Homo sapiens: one gene and its partner. The protein of the gene in region 1 purifies or fractionates together with the protein of each later gene. This does not show direct contact. Each region holds a gene or a part of one and is shown on either strand. Other genes may lie near its edges.

What was found.
Region 2: the proteins of NUDT9 (region 1) and WDR5B purify together in Homo sapiens (affinity purification with mass spectrometry; 2 studies listed by BioGRID and IntAct, with this or other methods). This does not show direct contact.

The regions. Positions count from the first base shown.
Region 1 is NC_000004.12:87,428,136-87,444,698, reverse strand, and holds part of NUDT9 (ADP-ribose pyrophosphatase, mitochondrial isoform a precursor), read right to left. Parts: intron 9,719-16,563; coding exon 9,479-9,718; intron 6,423-9,478; coding exon 6,327-6,422; intron 2,871-6,326; coding exon 2,784-2,870; intron 1-2,783.
Region 2 is NC_000003.12:122,403,627-122,420,739, reverse strand, and holds WDR5B (WD repeat-containing protein 5B), read left to right. Parts: upstream 1-4,677; 5' UTR 4,678-5,211; coding exon 5,212-6,204; 3' UTR 6,205-8,894; downstream 8,895-17,113. Other genes in the region: protein FAM162A, read right to left, coding at 10,909-11,001, 13,351-13,459, 16,377-16,482. UniProt on the Homo sapiens protein: May function as a substrate receptor for CUL4-DDB1 ubiquitin E3 ligase complex.

The DNA of each region.
Region 1 (16,563 bases):
TAAGCTAACTAGATTCTAACCTTCAAAACTCTGGCTTCCCTTTTCTGCTCTTGTCCCCTTACTAGCATTACATTCCTGTTTCAAACATTTCATACCTTCCTGTTTTTAGCCAGCTTCACCAAAATCAGAAACTAACACTGCCATTAATATTTTTTTTATTAACTCTTTCCATCTCATTTAAACCATAGAGGTTCTAACAGTATGTGGATGGAGAGGTAGGCTGATCAGTAGTTAAGTAAGTAGGTAGGTGAATGGGTGAGTAAGTGGATGGATGGATGGAGGGAAGATAAAATTTGGGGTTGGGTAAAGATCCTTTTTGGCAGGAGAATCAAGAGGGCAAGTAAGAAAATAAGACCGGGTGAGAATGGGTGCCTCTTCCAGTAACTTGAAAATAAAAAAATATATAAAGAGTTAAACTATCAAATTATTATTATATCTCAGATCAAAGAAAAACAGAGTCTCCTTGAAGAAAAGCCCCCAAAATATCAAAACTAAGAAAGTAACAATATGAGGATATTTGCATTATTTAAAGAAAGAACATGACAATTCCACGTGGGGAGACAGATGGTCAGCAAAGAAATTCTAAAAGTAAAAAAATAAAAATTAAAAGGATGACAAATATGACAATATTTCAGGTACATTAGAAAGATGATTCCTGTGGAGATAGCTAAGCATATCTAAACATTAGATTCACTGACCTTCTTAATTCTGATTCATGCTCATCAAGAGACTTGAATATGATTTGGCTTACCACATAGGTCTGCCTCGGAAGAGAATGCCTCTCCCCCGTTCTGAAACCTTCAATGGCTCCAGTCCATACTCCTAACTTTGGCATTTAAAATTCTCCACAATAAAACTGCACAAAAATTAACTTTAAGTTTCATTTTTCGCCCACTACTCTTCTACAAGAATATTCTGTTTCAACCAAGCTGGTCTCTACTCAGATATTACTACAAACCCTTTTCTTAGGCTTCCTGCTGTCTCCCTACCCAAGGTTCAAGTTCAGCTCAAATCTACCTGCTTTATAAAGCCTTTCTTGGGTGCACTAGTTTACCACAGTCATGACCCACATCCAATCTTCTAATCTTCTAAAGCATCCTGAATCACCCATATTATTTGATCACATTTAACATGTTTTCTTACTTCACATTTTCCATCTTGCAACTAAAGCCATTGCTCTTCAGTGACAGAGAACCAGCTTAGGATTCTTAGAATTTTTTATATTTACCAAAGTGCCTACTCAATGCTGAGAACAAATAGATGTTCAATAAATAGATGCATAAATAGAATTTACCTTCTTTATATAATGCCTAACCTACTCATATAAGTACAGCTTTATACTTACATCGCATCACTATGATTTTATATAAAGTCTCTTTAAAATATCAATTATATATACATCTGCATGCATATTTATGTAATATACATGTGCAGGCATGTGTGTGTGTGTATAGTCGTGCCACATAATGATGTTTTGGTCAATAACAGACCACATATGCAACGGTGGTCCCATAAGATTACAATGGAGCTGAAACATTCCTATCACCTAATGATGTCATAAGCCATTGTCAATATCCTCACCCAATGCATTACTCACATGCTTGTGGTGATGCTGACGTAAACAAACCTACTGCACTGCCAGTCATAAGAGTACAATCACATACAGTATATAATACTTGATAATAAGTGACTATGTTACTGGCTTATGTATTTACTATACTGTACTTTTTATCATTATTTTAGAGTATATTCCTTCTACTTATAAAAAAAGTTAACTGTAAAACAGCCTCAGGCAGGTCATTCAGGAGATATTCAAGAGGAAGGCGTTATTATCATAGGAGATGACAGCTCCATGCATATTACTGCCCCTGACAACTTTCCAGTGGGACAAGATGTGGAGGTGGAAAACAGTGATATTGATGATCCTGACCTTGTATAGCCATAGGCTAATGTGTGTGTTTGTGTCTTAGTTTTTAACAAACAGTTTAAAAACAAACAGAAGAAACAACTTTTTTTAAATTAAAAAAAGTGCACAGAATAAGGAGGTAACAAAAGAAACTATTTTTGTACAGTTGCATGATGTGTTTTAAGCTGTTACTATAAAAAAGCCAAAAAGGTTTTAAAAATGTTTAAGTTTATAAAGAAGTTACAGTAAGTTAAGGTCAATTTATTATTAACAAAATGAAAATATTTTTTATAAATTTGGTGTAGCCTAAGTATGCAGTGTTTATAAACTCTACAATAGGGGACAGTAATGTCTTAGGCTTTCATGTTCACTCACCACTCACTGACTCACCCAGATCAACTTCCAGTCCTATAAGCTCCATTCAGGGTAAGTGCCCAAAACAGGTGTATGGTTTTTTATCTTTTATATCGTGTTTTTACCTACTTTCCCTATGTTTAGATATACATACACTTACAATTGTGTTACAGTTGCCTATAGTATTCAGTACAGTAACATGCTGTACAGGCTTGTAGCCTAAGAGCAATAGGCTATAGCATATGGCATAGGTGTATACTACTTATACAATTGCACCTACACAATCTAGTTTTATGTAAATATACTCTATGATGTTCACACAACAACAAAATCACCTAATAATGCATTTCTCAGAACGTGTCCTCATTGTTAAGCAATGCATGACTGTATACATACATATATATACAAACACATACATATGTATATACACACAGGTATACATATATACACAAACATAGCTACAGTCTGCAATTTTTCTATCACTTAGCTCTTTGCTACTGATATGCTTTTTATTGGTTCTTACCTGGTTATAATGGGATCTGCAGCGTGATTTGGGCCCCATCGCCCCAAAAGCCCCCGGCCCACCAGTCCAGTCCGTCCTGCAGGATTTCTGGAAAAACAAAAAAAGCATAAAATCAATTGAATGTGTTCATCTTTTTAACCTGATTTGATATAACCCAAAAGAAGAGAACATAAGCAGTAAGACAGAATAAGTCCTTACAAATCCAATGGAACTATCACATATCTGGTGCTGAAGTCATGTATTTCATGACACTGCTATTTAATTTTTCTTTTGCGCATGTGATATGCTTTAAACTTGATCCAGAAAGAGGCTCTCATACCCCAAGTGGTTCTACAATGTGATGATTTGTTTCAGTTTTCACCTATACTCCTAAATTCAAACTGGAACGTTCCTGGTTTCTTCTGGAACACCTAGATCTCTCTTCACTTTCTCATTATTCTCATTTCCTACTCTACTCTCCTACAACCCTTCCTATTAAAATTGTCCCTGTTACATTAAATCCCTTTTTCCTCAATGGTTTCTGGATTTTTATTATCAATAATATATATTTGTAGCATATGATAAGGTATTAGTATTACTATTTCATAGATTTCAAGTAGACTAAAATACAATTTTATAAAAATGCCAACTATTTAACCTGATGCCACAATCCAGTGTTAAAAATTTGTCAGAGAAACCTATCAATACTCATGCCTGTGTCATTTTATTTCAGTAAACATTCTTTAAATGTTCAACTTTCATTATGTACTACTAAAATGTTCTAACATGTAATTCTACTTCATGGTGCTGTATCTCTTGCCCTCCCACTATATGAAAGTAAATAAACAACTTGCCAAAATTTCCCTTTTTGCCATCTCTTTTTATTCTTTTTTCCCAGTGACTGTTATTAAAATTGAATGAATTTTTATATTGTTTTTGTACTAGACTCAGAAATATTTCAGCAAGACTTGCAAATAGCAACAGAAAGAAGAGACAAGACACCTGCCCAGCTGACAATAATTCTTTCCAAATTCACAGGAGGAGGGGCAGAGTGGCCAGCAACCATATATATATATACATATTTTTTTTTTGAGACAGAGTCTCACTCTGTCACCCACGCTGGAGTGCGGTGGCATGATCTCAGCTCACTGCAACCTCCGTCTCCCGGGTTCAAGCAATTCTCCTGCCTCAGCCTCCTGAGTAGCTGGGATTACAGGCATGCACCACCACGCCCAGCTAATTTTCGCATTTTTAGTAGAGACAGGGTTTCACCATGTTGGTCAGGCTGGTCTCAAACTCCTGACCTCACGATCCACCCGCCTCAGCCTCCCAAAGTGCTGGGATTACAGGCGTGAGCCACCATGCCCGGCCTGCAACCATATTTTATTCCATGTAACCACACACCCCTGAACACAAGTGATCAAGGCCACCATAAAGAGACAGATTAGTTTGTATAGATGACCAAGACCATAACTTGGAAACAGGAAACTGGAATGGACACACAGACTATATTAAAACCTGAAAAGCACAGATGGTTATTCGCAAAGAGAGAGTAATAAGCCAAAAATATAGACAAAAGCATAAATGAAGCAGAGAGAGAGTCCTGATGGATTTCGAATTCCATCTTTTCCTCAAGTTAGCTGCATTTTTGCTTTGAGCTCCTTGAGACATTCCTATAGCATAGCCTTAAAATAAATTTTACTTTTGCTCAGGCAAGCTAAAGTTAGTTTCTATTAGTCAAAGAGACTTCATTAAAAGAACAATCTATCTTGCATTTCCATCTATATATCTTACCTATCTTTTCATAATATTTTTATAATTGTATCTATAAAAGAACCTAAGGAATCAGTCAAATGCAAGGAGAATTTGACTTAAAAAGACTCAATAACATAGAAAGGTGAATAAGTTATGACCAAAGAAAGAACTTAGCAAAACTGAAGGACCAGGTTGAGATGAGAGGAGTACTACCATTTCCTTGTCTTACAGGAACCAAGAATACAAAGTGTAACATTTTTATAAGATGATAACCATGATTTCAAATCTGTGATCCTTCTTTGGTTTTATTTGGTACATGCTAATTTTTACACTTCTTTCTAACTTTTTAATATGATTTGGCTCTGTGACTCCACCCAAATCTCACCTCAAATTTTAATTCTCGAAAATTGAGGGCAGAACCTGGTGGGAGGTGACTGGATCATGGGGGACGGTTTCTCCATGCTGTTCTCATGATAGTGAGTGAGTTCTCATGAGAGCTGATGGTTTTTTTGTTGTTTGTTTTTTTGAGATGGAGTCTCACTCTGTTGCCCAGGCTGGAGTGCAGCGGCACAATCCTGGCTCACTCCAACCTCCGCCTCCTGGGTTCAAGCGATTCTCCTGCCTCAGCCTCCCGAGTAGCTGGAATTACAGGTACCCGCCACCAAGCCCAGCTAATTTTTGTATTTTTAGTAGAGACAGGGTTCTGCCATATTGGCCAGGCTGGTCTTCAACTCCTGATCTCAGGTGATCCACCCGCCTTGGCCTCCCAAAGTGCTGGGATTACAGGTGTGAGCCACTGTGCCTGGCCAATCTGATGGTTTTATAAGGGGCTCTTCCCCCTTTACTTATTCACTCTCTGTCACCTGTTGCCATGTAAGATGTACCTTTGCTTCTCTCTTGCCTTCCACCATGACAGTAGGTTTCCTGAGGCCTCCCCAGCCATGCAGAACTGTAAGTTAATTAAACTTCTTTCCCTTATACATTACCCAGTCTTGGGTATGTCTATTTTTTTTTTTGAGATGGAGTCTCGCTCTGTCGCCCAGGCTGGAGTGCAGTGGCGCAATCTCAGCCCACCGCAACCTCCGCCTCCCGGTTCAAGCAATTCTCCTCCCTCAGCCTCCCGAGTAGCTGGGATTACAGGTGCCCGCCACCACGCCTGGCTAAATTTTTTATCTTTAGTAAAGATGGGGTTTCTCCATGTTGGTCAGGCTGGTCTTAAACTCCTGACCTTAGGGGATCCGCCCACCTCAGCCTCCCAAAGTGCTGGGATTACAGGCGTGAGCCACTGCGCCCGGCCAGGTATGTCTGTATAGCACTGTGAGAACAGGCTGATACACTTTTATAATATCTTAAGGAAAATGGATAATTTTTGAGTTGTATAGGAAAATCATTTTTTAAAAAGTATAGAAAGACCCGAATTATTGGGTTATCTTTATTTTTACTCTTACATGTTTGGATAAATTCTTACTTTAAGATACTATACCATTTAATAAATATCTGCTGAACAATTTTTCTTTCTGTTAATGTATTCAATTATTTCTGTTTCCAAGATACAATTACAAAAAGATGCATTCAAACGCTGCCTCTGCCACTTACTAGCTGTATACAAATTGCTTACACTCTCTTCCCTTATCTGTAAAATTCAATTAAAAATATCCACCAACAGGGTTATTGTGCAGATTTAATTACATCACATATGTAAATAAATTTGTACAACATCTGGCACATACAAGGATTTGATAAATATGAACTATCTTTTCTACTTTTTGGTGACTCATTATTGTAAGATGCTCTGCTCCCAGTACCTACCTCGGTCTTCCATTTTCAATCTCATACAGGCCATTCTTGCTCTTTCTCTCAACATGCCCATCCTTTTCGTTAAACTTGGGAGAAAAATTACTTTCACTGTAATGAGAATACCAATGTAAAATAAGAAATAATGATTCAAAACTACCAACAGCTTAATAATGAAAGTCAATCTGTTATCCATAAGAAGTATTCCTGAAACAATAAATTTTTAAGGGTTAGTTTTTTTTTTTTTTTCACAAATCCATCTTATTCCTTCAAAACAATTTTTAAGGCAAAAAAAAGTTTTAACCAAAACACCACACATTACAAAGATATATATTATTATTAAACTTACTAACCCCTCCAGGAAGGACTACCAGCAGAAGAGCTAGAGCTCCTACCTCATGCTACAAGAAGGTCTATTAGCAAGAAGGAATTGTTTGTGGGCACAATATGAAAACTATTTGCTCCCATGTAATTCCAAAAATAAGATTCCTTCTGATGATGTTTCTACTATTTCAAAATAATTTAAATTTCTTCAAATGCACACTGATTAATATTCTTATCAGAGTAAACCCACAAAGCAGTGAATTTGCCCCACAAGCTGCATAATAAATATGATGTAAATTAAAAACAGACATACTATGCTGGAAATGTTCTAGATCTTGATCTGGGCAGTGGTTTACAGAGCTATGTAAATGTAAAATTTTGCTGAGCTGCACACCTTCACATGTAAGAAATGTGCACTTTACAGCCAGGCATGGTGGCTCACGCCTGTAATCCCAGCACTTTGGGAGGCCAAGGTGGGCAGATCACAAGGTCAGGAGATCAAGACCATCCTGGCTAACATGGTGGAACCCCATCTCTACTAAAAAAATACAAAAAATTAGCTGGGCATGGTGGTGGGCACCTGTAGCCCCAGCTACTCGGGAGGCTGAGGCAGGAGAATGGCGTGAACCCAGGAGGTGGAGCTTCCAGTGAGCCGAGATGGCGCCACTGCACTCCAGCCTGGGCGACAGAGCGAGACTCCATCTCGAAAAATAAATAAATAAAATAAAAATAAAGAAATGTGCACTTTACTATATTTGTATCATGCCACAAAAAAAATTATTTTTTCTTTCTTTCTTTTTTTTTTTTTTTTTTTGAGATGGAGTCTCGTTCTGTCACCCAGGCTGGAATGCTGTAGCATTATCTTGGTTCACTGCAACCTCTAACACCCAGATTCAAGCGACTCTCCTGCCTCAGCCTGCTGAGTAGCTGGGACTACAGGAACATGCCACTATACCCAGCTAATTTTTTATATTTTTGGTATACACAGGGTTTCATCATGTTTGCCAAGCTGGTCTCAAACTCCTGACCTCAAGTGATCCGCCTGCCTCGGCCTCCCAAAGTGCTGGGATTACAGGCGTGAGCCACTGTGCCTGGCCCAACAAAAACATTTTTAAACAGACATAACTAAACTACTCTCCTCACCACTATAAAATCCCTGCCATAATTGCACTGACAGTGAATAAAGAGTTACATAGCACTGGATAGTTCATGGGCAGTTCTGAAACAGGTTTCACTTTTTTCTTGCTTTAATTCCATTGAGTGAGCAAAGAAATATCTGTGGTCTGTTTGGGAATAATTTCCAATTTCAATGATCCATACATTTTCTTAAGACTTCTAGCCAATCTGCCATCTAACATGCAAATAAAAAGAATTAAATGATAAAAACCATGAAATTATAAAACCAGAGCTGCAATGCCCTTGGGACTCTAGAGATTCACCCTTTTAAAAAAATCACCAGGCGTGCCGGCTCATGCCTGTAATCCCAGCACTTTGAGAGGCCAAGGCAGAAGGATCACCTGAGCTCAGGAGTTCGAGACCAGACTGGATGATACAGTGAGAACTCTTCTCTGCTAAAAATTTAAAAGTTAGCCAGGCATGGTGGCACACACCTGTAGTCCCACCTGCTCAGGAGGCTGAAGTGGGAGGATCACTTGAGCCCAGGAGATCAAGGCTGCAGTGAGCTATGATCACACCACTGCACTCCACCCTGGGTTAGAAAAGGAACATAAAGGGATGGGAAAAATGGGGAGATGATGGTCAAAGGGTACAAAGTTTCAGTTATGCAAAATGAGTAAGTTCTAGAGATCTAATGCACAGTGTGGTGACTACAGTTAATAATACTGTTCTTGTCCAGCCTGGACAATACAGTGAGACCCCATCTCTACTTAAAAATAAAATAAAATTAGCCAAGTATGGTGGAACATGCCCATAGTCCTAGCTACTCAGGTGGCTGAGGCAGGAGAATCACCTGAGCCCAGGAGTTCAAGGTTGGAGCAAGCTGTGATCACATCACTGTACTCCAGCCTGGGTGACAGAGAGAGAGAGCACCAGTCTCAAAAATAGTAATAATACAGTATTGTATACTTGAAACTCGCTGAGAGTGGATCTCAACTCTTCTCACTACACACACAAAAAAGGTAACCATGTAAGATTATTTTAAATGGCTTGATTGTTGTAATCACTTCACAATGTATATGTATGTCAAAATATCACATTGTACACCTTAAATATATATAGTTACTTGTCAATCATATATCAATAAAGCTGGAAAATAAAAAAGAAACATAAACATAAAATGTTAATCAATGCGGCACTTCTATGAATTTAGTGAGAGCCCCTTCTCTCTCATTCTCCCCCTCTCACTCCCCTTTATCCAACCCTTTTCTATTTTTTCACACTGGTTTATCATCATCCTGTTCTTAGTAACCTGGAGAATTTTCCGAAAAATATTTTCACAAGTCTAGCTATGTTGGAAAATAACCACAAAGGATATTCTATTGATAACCCAAATAGAACACATGAAAACAAATACCATCAGCTGTTATTTCAAAACAAATATAACAGTACCAGCTGTTATTTCATAACACATAGCTGATGCTATTTGTTATTTCAAATCAAAACAGATTTAACTATTTGGAAGTATCCTCATAAAACCCCCAAAAGAATAAACAAATATGAACTGTTTATCTTTGGCAAGAATTCAAGCAAATGTGGAAACTGAGTTATAACACAGCTAAGCATAGATTGAAATTATTTTCAGGTGTCAAAAAGATACTTTACAAATAAAACCATTACCTTCTCTAAAAGTCTTATTCCCAGCTAACGCTGTCTTATTTGCTCACCTGATCTGAGGATCTGCCCACCTGGGTCCAGCCAAGACAGAGACTGCAGTGTATTCCACAGGCTTATAGTCTTGCCACTCAACAAGCCAGCCCACTTTCTCATTAGGAACCTGGCTTCGTTCAACTTTTGAACCTGGGTAAGGAGACGTCCGAGCCTTATTGTGAGAATTTTCTTTGGAACCATTAGAACCAGACATGACGTTGGTATTAAGATGAAACCAAGAAGATGAAAACGAGTTTCTGGGGGAGAAAAAGAAAAACATTTTACATAAATACCAAAAATATATTAATTAAAGAACCTAGGCCGGGTGCAGTGGCTTACGCCTGTAATCCCAGCACTTTGTGAGGCCGAGGTAGGTGGATCACCTGAGGTTAGGGGTTCAAGACCAGCCTGACCAACATGGTGAAATGCCGTCTCTACTAAAAATACAAAATTAGTGGCATATGCCTGTAATCCCAGCTACTTGGGAGGCTGAGGCAAGAGAATCACTTGAACCCAGAAGGCAGAGGTTGCAGTGAGACATCGCGCCATTGCACTCCAACCTGGGCAACAGGAGTGAAAACTCCATCTCAAAAAAAAAGCAAAAAAAAAAAGAACCTAATTCAAAGACCCAAAAACATACTTTCCAATTTCAAAAACCTTTAAGAATCAGAAAATTCAAATATGATGCATATTAGTCTAAAGGTCCAACATCTATGAGAGATTATTTTCAAATATACATTTTTTTAACATATAGCTAAATCTTATTAGCTGGAACCCACTCACTGAATTTATTTTAGACAAAAAAAAAAAAAAAAGGACACAAACTTACTTGTGTGTTATCTGTTGTGGAAGGGGAAGTTTGTTATGAAAACTCAAACCATAAAAACAAGTGTAGGCCAGGTGTGGTGGCTCATATCTGTAATCCCAGCACTTTGGGAGGCTAAGGAGGGCAGATCACTTGAGGTCAGGAGTTCGAGACCAGCCTGCTCAACATGGTGAAACCCTGTCTCTACTAAAAGATACAAAAATTAGCCAGGTGTGGTGAATCCCAGCTACTCGGGAGGCTGGGGCAGGAGAATTGCTTGAACCCAGGAGGCGGAGGTTGCAGTGAGCCGAGATTGTGGCACTGCACTCCAGCCTGGGCGACAGAGCGAGACTCCATCTCAAAAAATATATATACATATAAAAGAAAACTGTTTAAAGTCTACGTAAAGGAATATATTTTTTAAAAATCATCTATAGTCTAACATACACATAAAACGTATGGCAAAAATGGTTCAAAGGAAAAACAGGAAAATAGAAATTATTGAAAAATTTTTTACACTGAAAATGAACTAATGTAATATAATTTGAAGGTAGACTGTGGTAAATATACAAATTGTAACCTTTAGAGCAAAATTTAAATAAAATATACAGGCATGAAATAACTGGATAGCATATGCAAAAGAAAAACCAACTAACCTTCACCCTAACCACACAGCATATACAAAAATTTTTCATATCTCATCTTGCCTAAAAAGTTAAATGACTTCTAATTATTCTTAAAATACGAATTCTTGATGACCTTAAATTAGGACATCTCAAGTGGGAAAGGAGATTCTGAGGACATGGTAAAATTATGATAGCTCCTTTCCCCTGCTCTCACAATACCAGTCAATTTGCCCTTCTTAAGACAAATGATTGACGGGGCAAATATCCACTTGACCAAGGTTGTGGACTAAGTCAACAGCATGTGCCTCCTGATCTCATACAGTGAGAAGCATGCAACAGTCATTTGAGGTATTTCTCCCAAAAATATATGACATGAATCTGAACATTAGGAAACACAAGACAGACCCAGGTTAAGAGACATCTTACAGAATAAAGGTGTGTACTCTCTAAATTGGTAAGGTCATGAAAGATAGAGAAAGGTGCAGGAACTCTTCCAGATAGATTAAGACTAAAAAGACATGACAATTAGAAGCAATCAATGATCTTGGATGGGCTGATGACCATAAAGGAAAAAATAAACATTGCAGGATAGGTAGTAAAGTTTGGATGGGGTTGTATAAATAATTTTAAAAGGTGAATTTTTTTAAAGTATCTATTTACTCCCAACAAAGAAAAACCCAGGACCAGATGGCTTTACTGATAAATTCTACCAAACATTTAAAGAAGAATCAACACCAATATTCCCTCAACTCTTCCAAAAACGTGAAGAGGAAGTAAACACTTCCAAACTCACTCTGAGGCCAGCATTATCCTGATACTAAAGCTTGACAAAGACACTATAAAAAAACTACAAACCATTATCTTTGATTAATACTGATGTGAAAATCCTCAACAAAATAATAACAAACAGAATTCAACAGCACATGAAAAGGATTATATGCCATGACCAAGGGAGACATTCTTGGAATCCAATGATGGTTCTATATAATGAAAATCAATCAACATAATGTATCACATTAACAAAATAAAAAAAAAAAACACAATCTTCTTGATTGATGCAGAAAAATTATCTAACAAAATTCAGCACCCTTTCACGATTTAAGAATATTCAACAAACTAGGAATAGAAGGAAATTACCTCAACATAATAAAGGCCATATATGAAAAGCCCACAGCTAATGGTGTGAAGGTGAAAGACTGGAAGTTTTTCCTCTAAGATCAGGAACAAGACAAGGATGTTCACTTTAATCAATATAATACTGGAAGTTCAGCCAGAGCAATTAGGAAAGAAATAGAAGTTCTAGCCAGAACAATTAGGAAAGAAAAAAAAAGGAAAAGGTATCCACATTGGAAAGGAAGAAGTAAAACTGGTTGAGCATCCCTAATCCAAAAATCCAAAATCAGAAATTTTTTGAGTGCTGATATGATGCCACAAATAGAAAATTCCACACCTGGCTTCATGTGATGGGTCACAACCAAAACTGTTTCAGGCACAAGTTTAAAATACTGTATAAAAGTATCTCCAGGCTACCTGTTTAAAGTATATATAAAACATAAATGAATTTTGTGTTTAGACTTGAGTCCCATCTCCAAGACATCTCATTATGTGTATGTGAATATTCCAAAACCTGAAATCCAAACCGCTCTGGTCTCAAGCATTTTAGATAAGGGATACTCAACCTGTATTTACACATCGCATGATGTTTTATGTAGAAAACCCAAGATAATTCATGAAAAAACTGTTAGAACTAATAAATGAATTCAGCAAAGTTGCAAGGTATGAATCAACACACAAAAATGGTTACATTAAAAAACACTAACATGCTGGGTGCACTGGCTCATGCCTGTAATCTCAGCACTTCAGAAGGCAGAGGCTAGTGGATCACCTGAGGTCAGCAGTTCAAGACCAGCCCGGCCAACATGGCGAAACCCTGTCTCTACTAAAAATACAAAAATTAGCCGGGCATGGTGATGTGTGCCTGTAATCCCAGCTACTCGAGAAGCTGAGGCAGGAGAATCACTTAAACCCCAGAGGCGGAGGTTGCAGTAAGCCGAGATCAAGGCTCCATCTCAAAAACAAACAAACAAACAAAGCACTAATAATTAACAATCCAAAAGGAACATTAAGAAAATTCTACTTACAATAGCATAGAAAAGAATAAAATACTTAGGAATAAACTTAAGGAAGCAAAACTCTTATACACTGAACACTACAAACTATTGCTAAAAGAAATTAAAGACACCAATAAATAAAAAGACATCCTATGTTCATTGACTGGAAAAAAATATTAAGATGTCAATACTACTCAAAGTTATCCGCAGATTCAATGCAATCTCTGTCAAAATCCCAATGATGTTTTTCCAGAAAGAGAAAACTCTACCTTAAAATTCATATGGAATCTCAAGGAACCCCAAATAGCCAAGACAATCTTGAAAGGGAGAAACAAGTTCAAGGTCTCACACTTACTACACAGCTATAGTAATCACAACACTGAGATACTGGCATACAGAAAGACATATAGACTAGTGGAATAGAAGTAGAACCCAGAAATAAATCCTCACAATAATTTTTGACAAAGGTACCAAGACCATTTCAACAGGGAAAGGGCAGTCTTTTCAACAAATGGTGCTAGGAAAATTGGATATTCACATGCAAAAGTAGTATGAAGTTTGACCCTTACCTTTCACCATATAAAAACATTAATTAAAAGTGGGTCAAAGACCTAAACATAAGACCTAAAATGATCAAAATCTTAGAGGAACACATGCTGACAAAATTTCACGACACTGGATTTGGTGATGATTTTCTGGATATGACACCAAAAGTACAAGCAACAAGAGAAAAAATTGGTAAGCTGGACTATATATTACATCAAGATGAAAAACTTCTGGGTATCAAAAGACACAATCAAGAGAGAAAAAGCAACCCATGGAACAGGAAAAGATACTTGGTAATCACATGTCTGATAAGGGGTTGGTTATATCCAGAATATAGAAAGAACTCCTACACACAACAACAACAAAACAACCCAATTTAAAAACGGGCAAAGGACTCCAATAGACATTTCTCCAAAGAAGATATACAAATGGCCAATAAGCACATGGAAAGATGCTCAATACCACTAATTATTAGACAAAAGCAAGTCAAAACCACAATGAGATACTACCTCAGACCCATTAGAATGACCACTATCAAAAAAACAATACAGAAAATAAGTATTGGCAAGGATGTGGAGAAATTTACTTGCAATAAAAAAAATGACATCAAACAATTTGTATTTCTGTAAGGCATTGCTGAAAAAAGATTCAGTAAAGTCCTATAATATGGTACTATTTTTATAAAGCAATGACATAAAAAATAAATAAGCACATTTCAGTGCATGTATATAATGTATTAGTTTTCTACTGAAGCCACAACAAATCACCACAAATTCAATGACTTAAGACAATAAAAATTCATTGTCTTACAGTTTTGTAGGTTAGAAGTCCAACACAGGTCTCACTCAGCTAAAGACAATTTATCAGCAGGGCTGCATTCCTCTCTGGAGGCTCAAGAGAAAAATCCATTTGCCATACTTTCCCAGCTTCTAGAGGGAATCCTCATTCCACCTGCATTCTGTGGCTCATGGCCCCCTTCCATCATCTTCAAAGCCAGCAACATAGAAATCTCTCTGACCATGTATTAGTAATCATATCTTTGATCACGGCCAGGCCATTTTTTAAGGACTCTCAATTAAATCAGGCGCACCTTCCAGGATGCTCTCCCCATCTCAAAGTCCTTAACCTTAACCACCTCTGCACTCTCTTTTGCTATGTAAGGCAACATATACACAGGTTCCAGGTATCAGGATGTGGACATACTTGGGGGGCCATTATTCTGCTTACCACAACTGTCTATACTATTTATTATATAAGCATATATAGAAGGAGCCATATAATCAGGTTCTTAATATGGGCTAGGAAATAAGGTGCTGATGTGAAGAGAAGTAGAGGCAAACAGAAAGAGGGAAAAGAAAGGAAGGAGAACGAAAAGGAAAGGGAGGGGGAAAGGGGAGTACAGGAGAGAAGAAAAAGGAGATGAGGGGGAAAGAAGAGACAGTGGCAAAGATGGGGGGGAAACGGGGAGAGAGAAAAGGAGAAAAGGAAAGGGAGTTGCAAGAAAGGATAAGAAAAAAAGAACAAGAAAGAAAAACAAATTTAAAAAGGATAAGAAAACTGAAGGAAAAGGAAACAAGGAAAAAAAGAGAAGGAAAAAAGACTACCCAAATTTACCAAATAAAGTGAGGTATGCCTGATCAAATTTATGCAATTAGGGCAAATTACATAATTATATATATATAAAAAGAAACTTCTCAGTGGGGCACAGTGGCTCACGTCTGTAATCCCAACACTTTGGGAGGCCAAGGCAGGGGGACTGCTTGAAGCTAGGAGTTCAAGACCACCCTAGGTGAGACAGTGAGACCCTTATCTCTACAAAAAATTTTAAAAGTTAGTCAGGCATGGTGGTATGTGCCTGTAGTTGCCGCTACTCAGGAAGCTGAGGTGGGAGGATCTCCTGAGTCCAGGAGGTCAAGGCTGCAGTGAACCATGATCACGCCACTGCACTCCAGCCTGGGCAACATAGTGAGATCCTGACTCATTAAAAAAATAAGAAACCTTTTTAATTAAAATTCTTAACCTGACTTACAAGAACTGCTTCCTAGACTTCCTCCTGGTCCCTCTTCGGTGTATATAGTGTAAACATGTACCTACCATTAGGTATCATACGCAAGTTTCACTGCCCTAAAGGCAGTGAATTTTACGTGTACAATTCCATAAGAGTTGATGCGTGTCATTATACATTTGTCCAAACCATAAAGTACAAGACCAAGAGTAAACCCTGATATAAACTACAGGACTTTGGGTGATGAAGCGTCAATGTAGGTTCAATTTTAACAAACGTATGGCTCCGTGGCTCTGTGGGGATGTTGACAATGCGGGAGGCTATGCATGGGTGGAGGTAGGAGGTATACAGGATATCTCTTATCTTTAGCTCAATTTTGGTGTGAACCTAAAAACTGCTCTAAAAAAATGACTATTTTTTAAAGTCCTCTGTGCTACCCCAATTCATCCAACTCCTGATCTTTTTACTGTCTCCATAGTTGTGCCTTCAAGAATGCCATATAGTTGGAATCATACAGCCTTTCCTTCAGTTAATAATATGCATTTAAGATTCCTCCATGTCTTTTCATGGCTTGATAGCTCATTTCTTCTTAGCACTAAATAATATAATATCCCATTGTCTGGATGTACCGCAGTTTATTTATCCATTTACCTACTGAAGAACATCTTGGTTGCTTCCAAGTTTTGGCAGTTATGAATAAAACTGCTATAAACATCTGTGTGCAGGTTTTTGTGTGGACATAAATTTTCAATTCATTTGGGTAAATACCAAAGAGTGTGATTGCTGAATTATAAGTGTTGAGTTCTGTAAGAAACTGACAAACTGTCAGTTGGATTTTTAACTGGTTTCATTCTTTCCTATTCTTGTGTGTCTACAGTTTTATATACTGTTCAAGCTGTTCTCTTTCATCACATTTAAAGACTCTGAAACAATTACTATTTCATTTTACACTCACTTTACATCTGCAAAGTGTGGTAAAACACCCAAAAATGAGGGAAAACCTAACTAA
Region 2 (17,113 bases), on another chromosome or scaffold:
GTTGCCCCATTTCACTTGCATTTTGAAGGAGTCATTGTTTTCTCTAATTTTAAATTAATATACAGTCATTTCTGTGTTTTTTTGCAGAAAGTAAAATTACTCATTCTTATTCATATCCACTTAACCTGCAGAAGGCCAATGTAGTCCGCTGGGAGTCCTCAATAAGGATCACTGCTTTACCCATCACTTGGGCTGGGCATTATTAAGATACAGTGATGGGTAAGGAGAAAACAGAAACGCAAAAGACCGTAATGGGTGGTGAGAGAACAGTACCAGGTTTGGGAGAGACCTGCGCAGGCTGAGGTGTAAACTACCAGAGTGTGAAATGGTTGCAAGATTAAGTTACGATTATGAGGAGTGTCCTCTTGGGAAGTCAAAAGTAGTGTCTGCTGGGCACAGCCCCAGTTTACATTTGGAGATCAGCTAACACCTGTGAATTATTTTACTGCCCCCTTTCACTTTTAAAAATGTCCCAGTTTAGATAATGTTACGTGGCCACTCCATATTTATAAAGCCCAACTAGATTTTCATACATTGGCTAATGGTCTTAAGCAACTAGGTATACATAGTTCTATTAATGCTTGATATTGAGACTGGATTTGGTAGTCAAGAATTGCTATGAAGGATGTTGAGACATTCCTTAATGTGGGAATCACTCCCATGCCACGGTTTGGTCCAGCACACATACAAAAAAAAAATTGTTTTTAAATTTAAAAATTGCCCCATTTGTGGCAACACATCTGTTTAGATATTTACAATACTGAGGGGCAAGGGAAACACACCTTTAAACTATATTAAGATAAGAGACTTTCATTTCTTTTTTTTTTTTTTTTTTTTTTTTTTTTTTGAGACGGAGTCTCGCTCTGTCGCCCAGGCCGGACTGCGGACTGCAGTGGCGCAATCTCGGCTCACTGCAAGCTCCGCTTCCCGGGTTCACGCCATTCTCCTGCCTCAGCCTCCCGAGTAGCTGGGACTACAGGCGCCCGCCACCGCGCCCGGCTAATTTTTTGTATTTTTAGTAGAGACGGGGTTTCACCTTGTTAGCCAGGATGGTCTCGATCTCTTGACCTCATGATCCACCCGCCTCGGCCTCCCAAAGTGCTGGGATTACAGGCGTGAGCCACCGCGCCCGGCCTTCATTTCTAAGATGTCTGGGAAATTTAAAGAAATCTAGTTGATTTCTGTAGGGAGGAAACTTCCAAAGCACTTAGATGGTAAAGATTAAGGGCAGCAGAAATAGAAACTGTTAATGAGACCATGTAAGAAATTTTGCTTGGTCAACCCGGGCAATGTAGTGAAACTCTGTCTCTACAAAGGGTTGTTGTTGTTTTTTTTTTTTTTGAGATGAAGTCTCGCTCTTGTCCCTCAGGCTAGAGTGTGATGGCACAATCTCGGCTCACTGCAACCTCCGCCTCCTGGGTTCAAGCGATTCTCCTGCCTCAGCCCCCTGAGTAGCTGGGATTACAGGCGCCTGCCACCACGCCCGGCTAATTTTTGTATTTTTAGTTGAGAAGGGGCTTCACCATGTTGGCCAGGCTGGTCTAGAACTCCTGACCTCAGGTGATCCACCCGCCTCGGCCTCGCAAAGTGCTGGGATTACAGGCGTGAGCCATAGTGCCCAGCCAACAAGGTATTTTAAAAAGTAGCCGGGCATGGTGGCGGGTGCCTGTGGGAGGCTGAGGTGGGAGGATCGCCTGAGCCCTGGCAACGCTGCAGTGAACTGAGATGGCACCACTGCACTCCAGCCTGGGCGACAAGGGCAAAACTCCGTCTCATAAATAAATTAATAAGTAAATAAGAAACCCAAAATGCGTATCTCTTATTCTGCCACTTTGGATTTACCTACATGTATCAGTATTCAGCAAAACTCCGTCTCATAAATGAATAAATAAGGAACCCAAAATGCAAATCTCTGTTCTGCCACTTCGGATTTACCTGTATCAGTATTCCGTGCTCCTGCACCGAAATGTCGCTGATCCTCCCAAGCAAGTAAACTGAAAATCTTAGTTCTAATTTCCTAAGGACTACAATGTTAGGACTACATGTTAATATCAGAACATGAATGAATAAACAATAGAACATAACTAGTTATATTCGCCAGGCGCGGTGGCTCACGCTTGTAATCCCAGCACTTTGGGAGGCCGAGGCGGGCGGATCACCTGAGGTCGGGAGTTCAAGACCAGCCTGGCCAACATGGAGAAACCCTGACTCTACTAAAAATACAAAATTAGCCGGGCATGGTGGCGCATGCCTGTAATCCCAGTTACCCGGGAGGCTGAGGCAGGAGAATCGCTTGAACCAGGGAGATGGAGATTGCAGTGAGCTGAGATCGCGCCACTGCACTCCAGCCTGGGCAACAAGAGCGAAACTCTGTCTCAAAAAAAAAAAAAACTAGTTATATTCATAGCCTTGATTTTGTTTGCATATGTTCCTAATGCTATTTGTAAACAAATCCCAGACATCAAGAAATGGATTTTGTTAATAGGAATTTCTTCAGATTTTAGGAAAATCTGAAGAAAAATAACTTCCGGATCTTCCTATCAACACATCCTTTATTGTGTCCCCCCCTCTCTCTTGCTTGTGATAGCTGTGGTGGGCTAAATATATTCCAGCACTAATACCCTATCCTAGCCTTCATGTCAAGTGTTCACGATTCTTAAATTTTACTCTTCTAGTGCATACAACAGTTACTGGAAAATGCAGATTTAAATTATTTGAAACAATGATTAAATTCTGCTCCTGTGCTCCAAGGGGCTTTTACGTTACCTTTTATTGAGTTAATAAAAATGGAAATAGTTTTCAATTGGTGCAGTTTCTAAACTTCTCAGCAAAAATCACTAATCCAGGCTAATGGGAAGAGAAAAGCAGCAGCAGGGTTTAGTTAGAACTGAACTTTAAGATATGCTGAAGGAAAAAAAATTTCTAAAAGTGTTAACAAGGGGAGGTCCATGGAGACCTTAATAGCTAAAAACCGTTGTAATTTAATGTATAGAAATAAATACTCTAAACCATTTTAGAGTCTTCATTCTCAGGACTACCTCACTGTGTTTATACAGTTAATATGCACTAGCTAAGACTAAAGTATTTGTCCAATTCTTATTTAAATTTCCCCCTAGACTGGTAGGGTCTTAAAGTAATGATATTTTAACTACAGTCGGTTTATTACAGGTGACCTAACGGTGCCTGTTGTGCCTTATAAAGGCCAAGACTTTCAATTATCCCTAATAAGTATACAATAGGATACCCATTGTTTCCAAGTGCTTTTAAATTCTTGACGCTGATGAGACATTTGCATCGTGACCAGCCACCAGTAAAATCTTTTAAGCCACGTTTTTTCTGCTTTTCTTGGGCACTCTTTTTTTTTTTTTTTTTGAGACGGAGTCTCACTGTTGCCCAGGCTGGAGTGCACTGGTGGAATCTCAGCTTACTGCACCCTCCACCTCCTGGTTCATGCCATTCTCCCACCTCAGCCTCCTGAGTAGCTGGGACTACAGGCGTGCGCCATCACGCGCAGCTAATTTTTGTATTTTTAGCAGTATTGGTTGCGCCATGTTGGTCAGGCTGGTCTCGGACACCCGACCTAAAGTGTCCCGCCCGACTGGGCCTCCCAAAGTGCTGGGATTACAGGCGTGAGTGCTCGGCCTCGGGCACTCTTTACTGAGCAACAACAGGTTGGAGAAACTAGTAGGGCTTCCAGTTTTTTGGTAAACCTATTGTTTAAAAGTCTGCCTGGTCATCAGATTCCAGTCGTCTTGTTTCTGCCTCAGATGATAAAACTCTAAAATTATAGGATGTGAGATCTGGAAAATGTTTGAAAACACTAAAGGGGCACAGTAATTATGTCTTTCGTTGCAACTTCAATAGCATGTATATTTTACACACTTTCATGACCATTAATCATCTCCTAAAACTGGGGAAAGCTCTCTAAAACCTCCTTAAGAGTAACCTTATCCGTTACCCTATTCCACCAACCTCTTTGTCCTTTTCTGTTTCAAGCAACTTTGAGATACCGACTTCTCTATGGAAGCTTAAGCCGTAGATGCTAAAACAAACGTTTGCTCGTTACTCCCAGCAGAGCACCGGCTTTTAAAGGACCTCAACAGACACGTTTCTTAACCTTTACGAAACTTTTCCAGGGGAAACTTAAACCAGGAATTTTACAATCTGGCATAAATTCTGTCACCCGCCCCGTGACTCCATCGCCACACATGCCACCTGGCTCCACACCACAACAAACAGGAGGGAGCGGAACCCATGCAAAGCAGGAGCTTCCCCCGTTTCCGGCGTCTGGGTGGATCTACGTTAGCTGCCGTTTAGGCAGCTTACGCGTCAGGTGTGGGCCTAAGCCTGCAGCTAAGGTAGGCATCCGCAAATCTAGTCCTTCTCTGTGACAATTTCCAAAAAGAAATGGTTTTTGAAACAACGATCCACTGCTTCCCACACTATCCAGTTAGGTCCGGGACAGACCCTACCCAGCTAATGCACTCACCCAAGAAGGCAGTCGCTTTCGCATTTGAAGGGCGGGGCGAAAAAGACCGGAAATGAACATTGGCGACTTTTTTGCGCAGGCGCAGATGGCCGTCTCCCATTGGTCATCTCGGCTCGGTAGTGGTAGGAGGGACTTCCTTTGCACATGCGCCAGGCTGCTTTTCCGGCTTTGTTGGAGATTGACGCGGCAGTGCACACCTGCTGGTACGAGCAAAAGTAGCCGACAGGCCAGAGTTTCCAGTTTCGGTGGCTTCGTAGGCTTTTAGCTTCTGAAATCCGCTAAAAGCGGCGGTTCATTCATCTTCAAGTACCTAGCCTGACTGGTAGGGCTGCTCAGCATTCCGAAACATTTCGACCTGGGGAGGGGGGCGGCGGTGAAAGAATACTTTCTGTAGAGAGTGCCCCTCGCGTCGCCCCTGCTTTGAAGGCTTTATGTATTAACGGAATGCCGAACATTTGTGTCCTACTTGCTGACAGCGCACAGGATCCTTCTAACAGTATTTCTCAAGTACTTAACAAAAAGATGAAAACTTGAAGTCCAAGCCGTGCTGCTGATTCCGTCTCACAGTTTAAAGACTGTCCAGAAACTTTAAGCTTTCAAAACTGTACATTTTAAAATCCTGTGCGTTTATCTTCATTTTGCTGGGCAGAAAGCCAAAGTACTGGACTGCCTGGTTCAGGGCTGAACGCCTAGTACACCTGCTAACTTGGAGCTTCAGAGCCATGGCAACCAAGGAGTCAAGAGACGCCAAAGCACAGTTGGCCCTCTCCTCATCGGCCAATCAGAGCAAGGAAGTGCCTGAAAACCCAAACTATGCTCTCAAATGTACTCTTGTGGGACACACGGAAGCAGTGTCATCAGTTAAGTTTAGTCCTAATGGAGAATGGCTAGCAAGTTCTTCTGCTGATAGGCTAATCATAATTTGGGGAGCATATGATGGAAAATATGAGAAAACACTCTATGGTCATAATTTGGAAATATCGGATGTTGCCTGGTCATCAGATTCCAGTCGTCTTGTTTCTGCCTCAGATGATAAAACTCTAAAATTATGGGATGTGAGATCTGGAAAATGTTTGAAAACACTGAAGGGGCACAGTAATTATGTCTTTTGTTGTAACTTCAATCCGCCATCCAACCTTATAATCTCGGGATCTTTTGATGAGACTGTAAAAATATGGGAGGTGAAAACAGGAAAGTGTCTCAAGACTTTGTCTGCTCATTCTGACCCAGTTTCTGCTGTTCATTTTAATTGTAGTGGGTCCTTGATAGTGTCAGGTAGCTATGATGGCCTCTGTAGAATCTGGGATGCTGCATCAGGTCAGTGTTTAAAAACGCTCGTTGATGACGATAACCCTCCTGTCTCTTTTGTAAAATTTTCTCCAAATGGTAAATACATTCTCACTGCAACTTTGGACAACACTCTTAAACTATGGGATTATAGCAGAGGCAGGTGCCTGAAAACATACACTGGTCATAAGAATGAGAAATATTGCATATTTGCCAATTTTTCAGTTACTGGTGGAAAGTGGATTGTGTCTGGTTCCGAGGATAACCTGGTTTACATTTGGAACCTTCAGACTAAAGAGATTGTGCAGAAATTACAAGGCCATACAGATGTTGTGATCTCAGCAGCTTGTCATCCTACAGAAAACCTCATCGCATCAGCAGCATTAGAAAATGACAAAACAATTAAACTGTGGATGAGTAACCACTAATCCCTTTGAAAATCAAGTAGTAGAGCCAAGTTGGCCAAAAAACTTGGATATTTAAAAAGACGGTTTCTTTTAATTTTGGCAGTTTGGTATTTTAAAAATTGTCTATTGTTAAATTTTGAGATTCATACACTACATTTACAAAATGAGATAGTTGAAAAAGCACATCTAGAATTCAGCTTCTGACTACCAATCTTTTTTGAGCAACTTTTTGTAATTTTTATGGATTTATGTCACTTTTATTACAGGGATATATTGCATAGTGGTGAAATCTGGGCTTAGTATACCCTCACCCAAATAGTATACATTGTACCTAGTAAATACTTTCCCATCTCTCACCCCACTCCCACCTTTGAAGGCTCTAGTGTCTATGATTCTGCTCTCCACGTCCAGGTGTACACATTGTTTATCTCCCACTTACGAGAACATGTGGTTTTTGACTTTCTGTATCATTACTTCACTTAATGGCCTCCAGGTCCATCCATGTTGTTGCAAAAGATAAGATTTCATTATTTTTTTTTGGCTGAGTAGTATTCTGTGGTGTGTATGTGTGTGTGTGTATGCATATATGTGTATGTGTATGTATATAAGTATATACACCACATTATCCAGTCATCTGGATATGTATATAAGTATATACACCACATTTTCTTTATCCAGTCATCTCTTGATGGACCCTTAGGTTGGTTCCATAACTTTGCTATTACGAATAGTGCTGCGATAAACAGCACTATTATGAATAGTGCTGCGATAAACAGTGCAGGTGATTTTAAAATATAATTTCCTTTGGGTAGATACCTACTAGTGGGATTGCTGGATCGAATGGTAGTTTTTAGTTGGAAAATCTCCATACTGTTTTCCAGAGGTTGTAAAATGTACATTCCTCCCCACAGTGTATAAGCTGTGCCTTTACTCTGCATCTTTGCCATGATTCTTTTTGAGACAGAGTCTCTGGTGCCCAGGCTGGAGTGCAGTGGCACAATCTTGGCTCACTGCAACCTCTGCCTCCCGGGTTCAAGCAGTTCTCATGTCTCAACATCCCAGGTAGCTAGGATTACAGGCGTGCCACCATGCCTGGCTAATGTTTCTATTTTTAGTAGAGACAGGGTTTCACCATGTTCGAGGCTGGTCTTGAACTCCTGGCCTCAAGTGATCCACCTGCCTCGGCCTCCCAAAGTGCTGGGATTACAGGCATGAGCCACTGTACCCAGCCATTTTTTGACTTTTTAATAATAGCCATTCTAACTGGTTTAAGAGAGTATCTCATTGTGGTTATATTTTGTATTCCTCTGATGATTAGTGATGTTGAGCATTTTTTTGTGTGTGTTTGTTGGCCACTTGTATGTCTTCTTTGAAAACTGACTTCTAATCTTGAGGCCTATTAATAATTTCATTTGTCTGTCACTGGACAATTTCTCATTCCTCTCAGTGACTATCCTAGAGGATCAGTGTATTTGAGAAATATTTAGAAGTAAAGTTGACAGGACAGGATGATTGATTAAAAGAGGGGAGCAAGGGAATTTGAAATAATTCCAGGGTTTCTGGTTTGGGAGATCAGATGAACAAGTGCATAAGCCTGGGATGCTGGTGGAGGACTGGAGAGACATGGCAGATGCTACCTGCACACTTTTGGTAATATTCTGTGTGATGGGATATGAAATGGTCCATAGAAAAAAACCGGAAAAATACGCCAAGGTTAGGTTCATTCTAAGAGTCTAAAAATTTCAAAAACCAAAACAACATTATAAATGGTGTTTCTCAAGGACCTTTCACTACCTTTTTAGATTGTGCTTGTGATTTTCAGGCAAGCTAAATGTCTGATGAAGACTGCTCTTCTTTTGTTCTGTGTCTGACCTACTAATTCCTGCCCATGCTTCAAACTCAGTTCAGAAATCACTGAAGGAACCATCCACTGCCGGCCTGCCTGCAACCACAGCTGACAGCTGAGTTAGTTAGGTTTTCCTGTCCCTATTATTTACCAGTTTGTACTGAAATGCTTTCATGGGCTGTGCTTCCAGATTATGAGTTCTGTGGAATCAGGAAGTATGTCTCTGTATTCTTGTATTCTTTGGCTTTTTTGTGTAGTAAAGGGACTCAAGTAATGTTTGACAGTGAAGGATACAACTTCATTCCTTGCCTGCTTTGATAAATTTTAGTAATAAATTCCCAAAACTATCATGTTGATTAAAAATAAAAAGTAACCGTAACCTCACACATTAACTTTATTCAAACAAACAGCACTTACAGGAAATGTAAAGTAGAAAAAGATTTCTGCCCACTTTACCTACGGAGACATGATAAACACGCAAAAAAAACCTAGAAATTAAGCAAAAAATAGCACAATAATTTAACTGAAAGCAACAAGGGCAAAACTGTCTCCTTTTGTAGTTTGTGGTACCTTATAGTAGTGCTCATTCAGTTTCGTTTGCTTGATAAATCTGAGGACTATGAGATATCAGAGTTACTAGTAGGGTAGGAGTGCTGTAAGGGTACTGGGAGAAGTAGGATTAGTTAGGGGCAGATCTTGAATTCTGGCCAAGAAACTGATATTTAACCCATAAAGAGATAGTCACTATATGTTATCAAATAGGAGAATAACACAAATGAGAAATGACTGTTAATTCCTGATGCATAATAACAGTTGTGAGCTTTAGTTTAATGTAATATTTGTAATAAAAACGTTTGGCCAGGCACCATGGCTCATGCCTGTAATCCCAGCACTTTGGGAGGCCGAGGGAGGCTGATCACCTGAGGTCAGGAGTTTGAGACCAGCCTGGCCAACATGGTGAAACCCCCGTCTTTATGAAAAATACAAAAATTAGCCAGGTGTGGTGGTGCACACCTATAATGCCAGTTACTGAGGAGGCTGAGGCACGAGAATTGCTTGAACCCGGGAGACGGAGGTTGCAGTGAGCTGAGATCATGCCCTGCACTCTAGCCTGGGCGACAGTGCAAGACTGTCTCAAAAAAAAAAAAAAGGTTTCATTAAATTTAAGCTCATAAATGTTACTACATTTATAATGTAAATCTCCAAGATACAACACATTTTTGTTGTATTGCTCTATGAAGAGGATTATTTTTAAAAGAAATTCCACATTAAAATTTATCCACATTTAAAACATTGGTGTAGGTGTCCCAAAATAAGAAAAACTAATCTTCTAAAATGTACAAGAAACTATGCTTTTTGAAAATAAATTTGCAAGTGATAACTTGATACCTACAAAGAAGCTAAGGCCAAATTAAAGTATATAGACAGACATCATAAACATCCTCAGATAGATTATCAAGCTATAGGTAGTATGTTACATTTTACTGGGTATTTTATTTGGGAAGAAAGTGCCCAAACAGCTGCATGTATTTTTAATCTCTCTTATAACTCTCTGAGAACCAGCATGTTGGCATGGCTGTATACAGTAGTCACCCCTTACCCTCTGGGGATATATTCCAAGACCCCCCAGTAGATGCCTGAAACTGTGGATAGTACCCAACCCTGCATATACTATGTTTTTCGTATACATACATACCTATGATACCGTTTATTTTATAAATTAGGCACAGCACAATGCACTTTGAGGCAATTATTAAATAAGAGTTACCTGAACACTAGCACTGATTCCACGACAGCTGATCTCGTAACAGAGACGGCTAGCACATACAGTGTGAATACACCAGAGAGAGGGATGATTCACATCCCAGGTGGATGGAACAGATTGGCAAGAGATTTCATCATGCTACACTGAATGGTATGTAATCTATAACTTATGCATTGTTATAGGAATTTTCCATTTAATATTTTCAGACCTCAGGTAACTGAAACCACAGAAAACAAAGCCGTGGATAAGAAGGGACTACTATAATGGCTTGTCATCCATGAATAATTAAGAAGCATGTGAGAATCAATGTTTAAAATAGAAACCTGTATTCATACCTAAATATGAGACAACTCGATATCCCAAGGTCAAACTGTAAATGAGATATATATGAGGTGCAAATACTTCTAACAGTAATAATACATGAGATTTTTATAATTGAGAAATTTAGTTTCTCAGGTGGTAAGAAAACAGCCAGTTGAGAATTCTAAGGCATGAAGCTAAGAGGTGACTTGTGTTGACCCCAAGCAACTCCATGACGCTGGGATTTCTAAGTCCTTAGAAATTCCTGGCTGGACCTTGTCAGAATGTTTAAAAAACTATTCTCCTAAAAGCCTCCATCTGCCAGCATGTTCAAAGATTATAGAATGTGGTCTGGCTGCTTCTCAGCGCTCGCTCTATTAGGGGGCAGCCTCCCCACCAGTACACCAGGACATTTGAGAAGGCTGGCCCTCCAAGCTGCACCTGGGCCATATACTCAACTGGCCTTCCTTATCTCCTCAAAATGAGTTCGCCTGTGGAGAGGTTACTTTGATAATGGGAAGAGAAGTAAGATATGGTACCTGCTTCTCTGAAGAGTTGGTATTCAAGTTGAAATAAATTGTTTCATTTTTCTCCAAAAGGCTGAGAGGCTACACTTGACTTGGATCAAAACAATAAAACACAGTCATTATTTAAGAAAATTTATTTCTACTTCTACAGCAGAAATACGGAAATGGTACAGGTTTGGGCAAATCATACTTTATGAAATGGATCCTCATACCACATCCTTTTTAATACAGGCACGTTATAACATAATTCCTGGATTTTCAAAATCCAGCCAACACGGATACCTCTGCTACTCTGTTTTGGCCTTCATAGCTGCTTCCTCTTTCAGACGAGCTTTCTTTTCTAAGTTCAAGCTTGTTAAAGTCTCGTGTCTTTGGGCAGCCTAAAGCAAAACAGATTTGAACAGGTGATTTGTATGCTGGTCAGGGGAGGGTGTCTTTACCTTGCACTGATGACAGCAGGTTAACAGAGGCATGGAGGCATGGAGTCCTCTGCTGCTTGCACACTGAGCACGGCAGTTTCCTCTATGTGCTTCAACTTCCTCGTACGCTTCCAAGAACAGCAGCTCATCCACTCAAGCATAAGTAAGAAGTGCCACACCTCTCCTTTTTCTTCCCTTCTGGCCCCTTTCTTTCAGTCTTTATCCTCTCCTTTTCTCTTATACTTTCTTCTCATTCCACCCCACTTCTCTTTTATACTAAATACCTTCTCATTGCCATTTCTATCCCGTTTTTCTTCTTTCACTTTTCTCTGTTGCTGCCATTTCTCCTTCCCCAACTTATCTGCATACTCAGATCCTTCTAGTTCCTCACTTCTCTTTTACCAAAAACATTCAGCTTTGGGAATCCCAGACTTTACCCAAATACTACCATTGATGATTTCCACGAGTATCTGTACTACAATTCCAACCTTTGAGTGGGGGAGGCAACCGTCCTCTTCCCTTGTTTCCCTCCATGTAAACGGTCAGATTTCTATGAAGCTTACATACAGGCCAGTTTCAACACTTTTATACCAAATAGTGAAACTAGCACCCTAAGCTGATATTTCCTTCTATCTGTGTAATTTCATATGTAAAAGAATTGGGTATGTGGCGGGGGGTGGGGGAGCGGGGGGAGAAAGGGAAGTTGATGGTGAGAGCAAAATATACAATGGCTAATTTTTCTCTTCCAAATCACATTGAGTTCAAAAGTTCTCCATTCCAGTAGTATTTATGGAAACAGAAATTCCATAAAACTAAAATGTTACAATTTTATGGTAAAGAACAGGAGAAGAACTCTCTAAAATACACAGCATATACCCCTGGATGATGCTAGAAGAGATTCCAGGTGAATAATTTGCTTCTGGAGTATTTAAACTCAGCTAGTACAATCGAGTATACAAAAGCAATGCAAATTTCTCAGAATCCTAGAAGCTCACAGTCCTGTCCACATGTTTCTGCTGGTTTTAATCTGAGAACTATGCATGAGAGGTCAAAGAGGGAGACAAGAAAAAATGAAGTGGGGTGGGAACAGAGTTTTCAAGAGAACTTCACCCAGCTCAGCACATTTGCCCCTTCGTACTCCCATGAGGTCAGCCTAAAATGGTCAGTATTTCCATTTAACTGCAAGAATGAAGACAGCCAAAAGTACATTTCCTTTTACTCTGGAATTACTGAGGATAAGAAAGTCAGTTAAGAGTGCGTGTATAGAAGGACCTTTTTAGTATCTTAAAGTAGTTGTAAGACATCACTTTCCACATGGAAGCTGTGATATATAGAATTATACATGGTATTAAAAGAAGAATTTGACCAAAGCTGCTGAATATAAAAATAACTATGGCTTAATAGCAAGATAGTATAGTATGAGGTTTGGTAACCTGCAAACTTGGGTCTAGATTTTTATCTTGCCACTTGTTAGCTGTGTGAGTTTGGGAAAACTATTTACCTCTTAGGGTTATGGGGGTGATTAAGTGAGCTTAACAGTGCCTGTTACATAATAAGCACTCAATAAATGGGAGGAATTTTCCTATTACCTGAATTGGGTCTAGGTTCACACTGTGGCTCGTCATTAAGGAGATATGTGGCCTTGGGCAAGTTACTAAAGCTTTCTAAGCTATAGTTTTCCTCATCTATAAATCAGGTCCTAATAATACTTATCTTACAGTGTTTTTGTGAGGTTCAGATGAGATACCAGCTAGAAAAGTACCTGGAATGCAGTGAGTGTTCAATTAGTGATAGCTATTAATTATAATCTGTGCTAAAGATTTCTGGACTTGTATTCCTATGTACTGCTTAGGAGCTGTGGTCCTTAGACACATGGCCCTGTCTGGCTGAGCTTCAAATAAAGAACCCCGCTAAGAAAGCTCACCATGCTGAAGGCAGTTATGGTGAGGGTAAATACACTTGGGTACCAAGAGCACTCTGGAAATATGCAGTGGGTGATTAAATATGCCAGTGTCCTATTTCTTAATTTACATTATGACACCTGTCATCAGAAACACTTTTTAAATTTACATTACACAAAATGAATCTAGTCCTTCTTCACCACGCCAAAGTTAGGATTTGCTATCTATCCCCAAGGATGATATTCCAGGCTTGTTCCCAATATGTCTTATTTTTTTGCTTATCTTTTCTCATGTAATGTAGAAAGTAGCCTCCTCTTCTCAGAGGGTAAATACAAGGGTCAATCCCTGATTTACTCTAGGTTCTTGGTGGAGAACATACATACTGGATAGAGAAGAAACCCCTTCTCACCTTCTTGCCCTCAATAACCATGAAGATGCATCCTACCACCGTCAGGGCAATCATTAGATAGCTGATCTTCACTCGCATCTTGTTCTTTGCAGCATCAAGCATCTCCAACCTAGTAATACAATGAGATCATGAGAGAAAGTTATTAACTTTTCCCTTTCTGAAGTTGCTCAGGATAAAAGGCTGTGTATAAATTCAAAATGTAGTAGTGTCTATAAATATAAATAGGGAGACCTAGAGATCTCTTTAAAAAGGGCCTAGAGATCTCATAGGACTTTGGGGAGGATGAGGCATTTTTCGTAACTCATTTATGTATAAAATACAGGATAGCACACAATTAAGTACAAAAGAAGAAAACAAAAAGAGAAGTCAAGAACAAAGCCAAAAAAAAAAAATGGGCAAGGCATATTAATCTACACTTGCTATGGTGGACCCCAATTTTGGCTCTCAGGTTTCCAAGCAGCCTATAAATGCTAGAAGTGAAACAGTCATTTCTCCCTGAGGTTCTTAAGAAGACATTATGTGATGTAGTCATCGTCTGAAAACATCTCGACAACAGATACTACAATAAGCTTCATATGTTTCAACACAAAGCACAATTCAGAATGATCAAACATTGGAGAAAGTTAACCAATGTGCTCCATATACCCAGCTTTTTGCTCTCTGTCTTGAACCCAGAATAGATTTGAGAATATCTAAAATAGTAGGAAGATCCTTTAAGCAATGCTCCTCAATATTTATCTTTTTAAACAAATGTTTTGCTAAAATTGAGTGACAGTGAACTTGATATTGTGGTCTTTGGCAAGTGCCAAAGTGCAGCTCTTCTAACCTATCTACTGAATACAGACCCATGTGCCTTAAAAAAAAGTTGATGGTTGGTTCATCATTCTTGTGTGAAACCTAAGAGGCTTAATATAGAAGAGTCTAAAGGCCAATCTACCTTGGTGATTTTGCAAGTAGGCAGTGAGTCATGGTTCTATTTTTAATTTACTTTATTTAAAGAGATGGGGTCTCACCATGTTGCTGACTCAAAATCTTAGACTGAAGCGATCCTCCTGCCTCAGCCTCCTGAGCAGCCGGGGCTATAGGCATGCATTGCCACACCTGGTGGTCACGATTCTGTTACCTCGGTGTCTGGCAGAACCTCAAGGCAGGGGATGTGGAGCCCTTATGGGGCCCAGGATTAACTTATGGCCTTCTCAGTAGATGTGTAAATAGGAAGTGATTATCTCTAGATGATGGGATTGAAGTGCTTTCTTTCCCCTGAGATATTTAACATATATTACTTTTAAAATTGGGGAGGGGAGTACTTTAAAAATGCTTGGAAGGAGGCAAAGAGTCTGGGATGTTGCAGGTGGAAGGAGGAAGATGATGAAGCCATGTACAATGTGATGTAGGAGCTGGGACCTGTGAGGCAGCATGTGGACGGGGTTCTCCAGGCACTTAAGCTGGGCCTGCAGGCTGGCAGGAACCCAAGACAACTGCTAAGGACTGTCAAATTGGTCAGTTAGGAGCACCTGAGATTCCACTAACCACAAACTGACTTCCCATGTTGACGGTATTTTATGGGATTTGAAGTGCCATGATCCTCATGAAAAGTAATCCATTCCATAGGGAGTAATAGGAATGGGCAAGTTAAGCAGTGCCTGTTCAGAACTACCAGCACAAGGACAAATGGCTGCCCAGGCCCAGAAAAGACCCTTCCAGAGTGATTCGTGAGGTAGTATTTTGGGCCTGAGGGGATCTTGGAACCAACTATTAGGCAGACTGAGGAAGGTGTTCTATAGCAAAGCCTATACAGCATCTGTTAAGGCCATGGGTGTCTACCAGCTTATTTTCTGCTGGTATAGGAAGAATTAGGGCATAGGCAAGAACCTGATGTCACTGTTATTTCCAGTATTCTCTTATTTCCCAGAAGAATACATGACTTGAGCTAAGAAAAACCAGGGCTTTCCTGCTGAAATAATTCTAGTTAAAGTAATGTGCTATCAATTTGACTGGCAGAAGCAGAAAAGCTCTATTAAAGCTGTTGTAAACAGAAAGTAAATACTACATATTTCCCTGGGAAAGAAATCCTGAATGAGCTCAGATCTTTTTCAATCATGACTTGAAACCAGAGACCAGAAGATCCAGGAATAGTTTCTTGCTGACAGGGAACTTCCACGAGCTTTGTCTGAAGTCCCTGTCCCTGAATAGGATGATGCCTCACAGAGGAGATGACATCTATTTCTCAGAATCTCTTTTTAGCCAAGATGCCAGCCAGTCAGGGTCTTTAACATGAGGCTAGGGCACTGGTTCTCAACCAGGGGAGATTCCCACCCCGCTCGTGCCCCTTGGACATTTGGCAGTGTCTGGAGACATTTCTGGTTGTCAGCACTGCCGCAATGCTACGGGCATGTAGGGGGCAGAAGCCGGGGATGCTGCCAAACATCTTCCAACAAATAGGACACCCCCCTGCCACAAAGCATTATCAAGCCCCAAATATCAATAGTACTGAGTTGAGAAACTGGGTTGGAGGAACCTGCACTCATCATCTACAAACTCTGAAAAAGTTCCATGATCCCAGCCAAGATCCCTTCCCTTAGGTTTAAGGAAGTTGGTGACAGGAAGCACTCTTTCCTGAATTCCAGAATATTGCAATTAAATACTTTTACACCTAAGGTTGAGTACTTAAGTGGATTTGGGGGAATACAGTCATTGTCAATGGTACTTAATTTATATACCTAGATTAAAAACAAACTTTAAAAAAGTCACACTTCTGTAGCCAGGGGATGAAATCAAATAATCAATTGACTTCAGAGTACCTGACAGTTCTTCACCAGTCACTGTGTAACTTAACAATGATAAGACACAGGTTTTCTAGCATTGTTTATATTCCAAGTACTTACCAAAGATAAAACATTTGGAAAAGTGAAAAATGTTTTCAAATTTGGTTGAAAAGTTTTAAACAGTTGGAACTCAGAGGCATTGCTTTTCCCTTAGATCAGTGAGAAATGAAAGCTGCTTGTAATACTAAATTCAGCACTCACGAGACAGTCTCTGGGATTTCATCTTCCTTTTTGAAGCGACCTGACCATATGAGGATCTTTTTCTGCCAATCCGTAGGTTTGTGTAAAGGCACTCTGTTGTAAGTGCCTATGAGAAAAACCAGACAAGAAATTTTATGTGTTTGAGATTATAACTCTCAAATTTAACAACAGAAAAATGGTATTAGTGCTTTTTAACTAGTCACTAAACAGAAACACTGAGAAACCTCAAGTTAATTAGAACTTTATTTGAATGGAATTTCTTAGGATGCTTCATTTTCCAAATAAGATTATAAAATCCCAAGGAAACGGTGAGGAGCTTGTCTGACTTCAGCAGACTAAGAAAAAGTTTGTAAGGTACAATCAGATTTTACCAGATCTTGAATGTCAGGCTAAGGGGTTTAGACTTGATTGGGAACTACTGTACATTTTGAAACAAGGAAGAAACTAATGTTTTAGGAAGGCTTATTATCTGTACAATGGATGGAGACAGAAAAGGGGGACACGGTAGAGTGGGCAAAAAGTCCAAATGGGAGCCTGTAATACCATGGTGAGCGGATATTCTCTGAACCAGAGTTGTCGCAGTGGAAAGAGAGATGAGGTCAGTCTGAGGATGACTGAAAGAATGTGGAGACTGGTTAAGACAAAGAGGAAGGAGTCACGAAGAACCTCAAACTTGGATGACTAAGACAACAGCAGTATTGTAACTAAAAGAAGACGGGAAAAGACCCAGTTGGGGA